Linked DNA regions of Homo sapiens: region 2 is linked to region 1. Evidence: fine-mapped expression QTL. Tissue or cell type: whole blood. Region 1 holds a variant in brackets; the other region holds the start of a gene. All regions are shown on one strand. Distances are from middle to middle.

Region 1 (2,682 bases):
CAACTGAAAGCCAAGATTAGTATTGGCTTATTTAAGCATGAAAACATCTGTGTGACACATTTAAAGGCCTGTTTTACCCCCCAGGGAATTGATGCAAAGAAATCAACATCTTTTGCAATTACCTCTGCCCAAATGGCTACAGCTCCCCACACATAAGCTGGGGCTGGCAGTGAACTGCTGCTCCCAGTGTAAGTTCTGGGAATGCAGGCTGCTGGCTCTGCGGACCTCAGCCTCCATTGGGTTGGCAGCCTCTCTGTTGAAGTTGGGCATCCGCCAATGTCTGAGCTCCAGCCTTCAGTGAGATTGGCTTACAGTGTAAGGCACCTGTCTTTGGGGAAATAGGATTTTCTCCTGTTGGTGTGAAGTATCAGTTTCTGGCCTTAATAAATTCACTGTACGTGAAGGTACATCATCTTCTAGTTTATGCCTATTGTGTAAAAATAATTAGCACCTTTCATTCTCAGAAGTGACCCGATTTAGATGACAAATTACATGGTCACCAGCTACGCCCATAAAAATGCAAGTGAAAGCAAGGTGGCTGGGCATGAGTCAGGGGCCAAGCAAAATTTTAAAAATAAAAAGGCTTTAGGGAATTAAAAATGGATTTTTAACATTGAGGAACCAGTGCTACCATCAGGTTTTCACTTGGCTCAAGTAGCTGGTAATGATTAATTCAAAACCTGTATCGGTATGTGTACATCTCCTAACAGTGGTCCTCTCTAGGGAAGGAGGAGAAATTAGTGAGTGCCTCTGTATCTGTGTATCTGTCTGTGTGTGCTTGTGTGTACACAGGGGAGAGAGAAAGTCAATGATATGCTGCTGGTAAATATTTAACAACTAGCTCTTGGGGATGGGGACAGAGGAATCACTGAACGTGGAAACTGGAAATATGCCCAAAAAGGCCTTGTGAGCATGTAGAAGCTGGCCTGGCACACCACTGAACAAATTGGACTTTGACATGTACTTTCAAAATTTTTGTTCTGCTTTATACATATATGTCACTTTTTATTTATAAATGCTTTGTATATAGGCTATATACTTGTATGCTCTGTCTACATATATATTTACATACATACATAAGCCTAGCTAGATCTATGCAAAAATTAGTCCTAATGGTAATTTTCCTAATTCTTGTATAAATTTCCGTGTAACATCCACTTGAGCATGTAACATCGTGAGTGATCTCACAAACCGGATTGCTATAGGGTCCCACATGACTACCAGGCCCAAGGATGGGATGTTCCCTTTACAATTGATTACCAGGATTTACCCTCCTAGCCCACATCTGGTAGAAGACAACATCTGGCTCCAGTGTTGAGAAAGATGCGGAATGGAAAACTTGAAGATGGTTTGAGTTAGAGACAGAGTGGGATCTAACTTCAGGCAAAA[G/T]GGGAAAAAAAAGGCTAAAGTTCAAATGATGAGAAAAATAGAATGGGGGAACAGAAAGTGTGAAGTTGCTGTTTATCCACTGCAATTTAGCTCTCTATGTCAAGGTGTGTCTCAGTAGCTTCCTGCAAGAGTGGGAGGGGAATGGGGAAGAAACAGTCTGTACTTTCATTTATTAAATGCAGCTTTCGCTGGTCACATTGCAACTCAATACAAACAGCCCAGCAGAGGGTAGGGCATTAACTCTTGTTCTCATCAATGTAAACACAATATTAATATTGAAGATTAAAGAAAATGGGTAAAAAGTCCAGTGTCTCCTCAATCTGTGTGAAGGTGAAGGTGGTTGCCTACCCTTGGACAGGTCCCAAAGGGAGACTGAGGTTGTCACCTCTTCCCATCCACAGTGAAGCAGGCAAGAACCAGAGGAACCCAATCACTTTCTTCCTGTAGGTCTCCAGATGGATACGTGAATCTTCAGAACTGGGCTTTCATGAATTATGAAAGTTCTTCGAAAGGCCTGAGAGGTTCGTACCTTGTGTGTGCACTGAAGTAGTTCCTTCAAAGCCCTTTCCCATGAATCAGTCACTGCCAATAGAAAATGTGACCGGTGTAAAACAGCCAGCCCTCGTAATTCCGCAGTCCCCATCGCTATAGCCCCTGGATTCTGGAGAGTAGGGAGTTCAAAGTCACGGGAGCCTCGGTGATCATCCTGAAGGAAGCTGCCCATGTTTAAATATCGGCCGAAGATGCTTGACCTCCTTCCTGGGCCACTGCTGATAGAGGGTGGTTGGTAGAGGCAGCTGATTTTCCTTTAGAGCCTCAAAGGATCAGATTTTCTATTTTGGATTGCCAGCCCCAAAAATAAACAAAACCCCCAAAGAAAAACAAAACAAAACAGGAGTGACTTTGGGGATAAGGAAACCCATCAACCCCACCTCCAGGACCCTCTGGTTACAATGTCCCCATTGGGTTTTTCCAAGTGGTTGGTTTAGATCATCGGTTTGCCCTCCGTTTGAATGCCCAGCTACATTGCAGGGCAAAGGGGAAAGTTTTCACTTAATAAAGACAATTTCACTTCTATTTCCTGGGACGAATAACCCCTAGAACCCTGACTTCCCTTTCTCCCCAGTTATGATGGGAAGCATAATTATTAAAAAGCATCCAGAACATCCTAAAGCCCTGCCCTGATCTTGTGGCTTTGCAGTAAGATGATAACCCTTTTACTCCCTGTCACCCCTTGATTTCCCATTCTTGAAGAGACTCATCTAGGTGGGCTGCATAGCTAACCTCTGGGAA
Region 2 (2,684 bases), 650 kb after region 1:
TTTAATGGACTGAGTGACAAAATTCACGGATTCTGAATTCAGCAGAAACCTGCTCAACCGAGGCACATCAGCACAGAGACGAAAAAAAAAAAAAAAAAGAGTCCAACCCCATTAAACAGGGTCACCCAAGGGATGGATTCAGTGTGCAAGAGACAATCTGTTCCCTCCGAAGTGACCCATTTAAAATCAGATTGTTCTGGGGGAAGCTCACAGGTTTAATAAATTTCAAACAGGCAAGGACAGGCTTGTACAACTGAGGTTCCTTAAGAGGAACATTTAAAAGAGGATAAGGCAATGAACAAAATAACTTGAGGATACACAAACTTTGGAGTCCTCACTCCAAAACTTCAAAAGCAGTGACATTTACAAGAATGTCTGGATAGCTATACACTGATCACTCCTCACAAGCAGCTTTGACTAACAGGAAGGACATGCTGGCTGGGCTTCCCCCCTACAGATAGCAATGCCAACCAACCACTCTGTCCTAAAGAGGGACTCGCAAGCTGTGGCTGCTCGCCCCCAAATTGCGCAGGACTGTCTGCAAGAAGGAACAAGAAAAGTTATTCACAGCATCACACCACGAAAGGTAGTTGCGTACCGCCCAACAGGGCCCTCTCCAAACACGGCAGGCTCCGCGAACCACAGGTGCTCACCGCTAACAAGAGGGCCGGGGGTGCGGGTATCGGTCACATGCCCTCGTGGTGTTAACCAGAAACTCCTCCTGGCTCGCTCCCTGCCAGCAGCCTGTGTGCCCAGAAGCCGAGCAGGCCCTGAGGGGGTCCTGGGGACTTCGGAGACTGGGGGCTTCCACCTCCAGCCTCTCCAGGGCTCCCGGCCGGGGCAGCAGAGGGTGTGCCCGGCCTCCCCGCCGGCATCCCGAGTACAGGGGGTACCAGCCACAGGTTCGGAGAACTTGTCCGGCGCTACACACCACGGCGCCCCCGCGGCGACTCTCGCGCTCCGGGGCTCTTACCTTGGCCGTGACTGCCGCCAGGCAGAGGGAGACACGGAAGAACAGGGTGGCGCGGCGGCGCCGCCGCCTACGAGGCGCAGGGGGTCCGGGTCAGGGTCCCGGCAGGCGCTGCCCTACTCGGAGCGGCGGTGCCAAGCACAGAGTTCGGGACTGCCCCCGGCTCCAAATGCCGCGGCGAGGGTCCGGGTCCCCCAAGCTGAGCACTGTCCCTTCTTCCTCTTCCTCCGGGGCCGCTGCCTGGAGCTGCTCCCGGCCCGGGGGACTCTTCCGAGCCAGGGGCGCCCCGCATGGGCAGGGGCCTGGGTCAGCCTCGGGTTGGGTCCAGGGAGCGACCGCCGGGGCCGACTCCACCTCCCGCGCTCCAAGCCGATTCGTCCCTTCAGGGCAGGGCCTGCCCGCGAACAGCCCGGCGAGACGAGCGCGGCCGCGCCCCCAGCTTCGGGCGCCCGGGCTCCGGCGCGGCGGCGGGGCAGGAGCAGACTGGCCGGGCCGGGCGCCGAACGCGGCGGCGCGGGGGGGGCTGCAACCGGCCGCGGCGCGCTCTCCCCCAGGGCCTGCGCCGCCCGCCCGCGGCTCCGCGGGAAAGAAGCGCCGGAAAAGGCCTCGCCCCGGCCTGGGGCGCGGGGCCGGGGGCGCGGGGCTAGGGGAGGCGCCCCGGGAAGGTCACGGGAGCGGAGGCGCGGCGAGTGGATCGCGGCGCGGTGGGTGCGGGGAGCCGAGGCGGGCGGCCCCCGCCGCCGGGAGCGCTCGCCGGCCTTGGCCGCCGCCGCCGCCTCCGAGATGCGCCGGCTTCCCGGAGCGCCCGGCGCTCGGAGCTGGGCGGCCGCTGCAGCCGCCGCGGGCAGCCGGGCGCCGCTGGCCGGAGCCGGCGCGCGATCCCCGCCTCCCGCGCCCGGCCAGGAGTGGGCCGCCGCGCGGGAACCGGCAGGGGCGGGCGCTGGGGTCCGGGCTCCGGGCTGGCCCCGCCGCCTCCGCGTGCCCAGAGCGCCGGACTCGCTCAGCAGCTGCAGTGACTGTGTGTCTGTGTCATGTCTGTGCAGCCGGGGGGGACCGCGAGCCGGGGCTGGGTTCCGAGCGGGGGCGGGGCCGGCGCCCGCGTCGGCGCCCGCCCCCGACCCCGTGACCGAGCGGCCGGCCAATGGCAAGCGCCGCAGCCGCGCGGACCGAGAGTTCGCCCCCGCACAGGCTCCGCCCCCCGGCGAGACTCCGCCCCGGTGCTTCTTCAGCTCGCTGGCTGGCAGGCAGGCGGAAGCAACACCCGGAGCCGGGATCCCGGGCCGGGTCGGGATGAAAGGGTGCAAGCTGGGAGCTCCCCGCCCTTCTTCCCCCAACCCCGGCGGCTCCCGGCCGCCTCGGGCTTGGCGTGCCTCGCGGAAAAAGGGGGAAGGGAAGCGGGACGGGCCCGCAGCTGCCGTGGTAGAGAGGCTCGCAGGCTTGCAGGACCATGCAGCCTGCTCCCCAAATTGCACAAAACAGCCGTCGTGAGAAGTAGGAAGTTTCCCCGCCTCGGGTCGCAGCTTCTCTCGGAGGTGGGCATGCTGTGGGGCAGCCGGAGTCTGTGAGGAGCCCCGCCGAAGGGCTCTGACGGCATCTTTCTGGGATCGGTATCCAAGAATCCTGTCCAAGGCTTCCTCTTCCTCTGAGGAAACTACATTTCTTTTTCCTCCACCCCAAACACACACCCCATGCACGCACAACACGCCCCTCCCCT

What was found. PIP is the estimated chance that this variant, and not a neighbour inherited with it, causes the effect.
Region 2: it holds the start of LARGE1, and the variant in region 1 is fine-mapped to the expression of LARGE1 in whole blood (TOPMed, PIP above 0.99).

Annotation. Positions count from the first base shown.
Region 1 is chr22:33,271,545-33,274,226 of GRCh38, forward strand. It overlaps LARGE1 (LARGE xylosyl- and glucuronyltransferase 1), which reads right to left. Exons shown (of 15, transcript NM_133642.5): 15 at 965-2,682. Among named protein-coding and RNA genes, the nearest start is that of LARGE1-AS2, 110 kb to the left of the region's middle. The variant G/T (reference allele first, on the strand shown) is at 1,390.
Region 2 is chr22:33,919,022-33,921,705 of GRCh38, forward strand. It overlaps LARGE1 (LARGE xylosyl- and glucuronyltransferase 1), which reads right to left and starts at 1,455. Exons shown (of 15, transcript NM_133642.5): 1 at 974-1,455. LARGE1-AS1 (LARGE1 antisense RNA 1) reads left to right here and starts at 2,204. Exons shown (of 2, transcript XR_001755630.2): 1 at 2,204-2,502. RefSeq lists silencers at 983-1,082, 1,353-1,502, 1,823-2,322.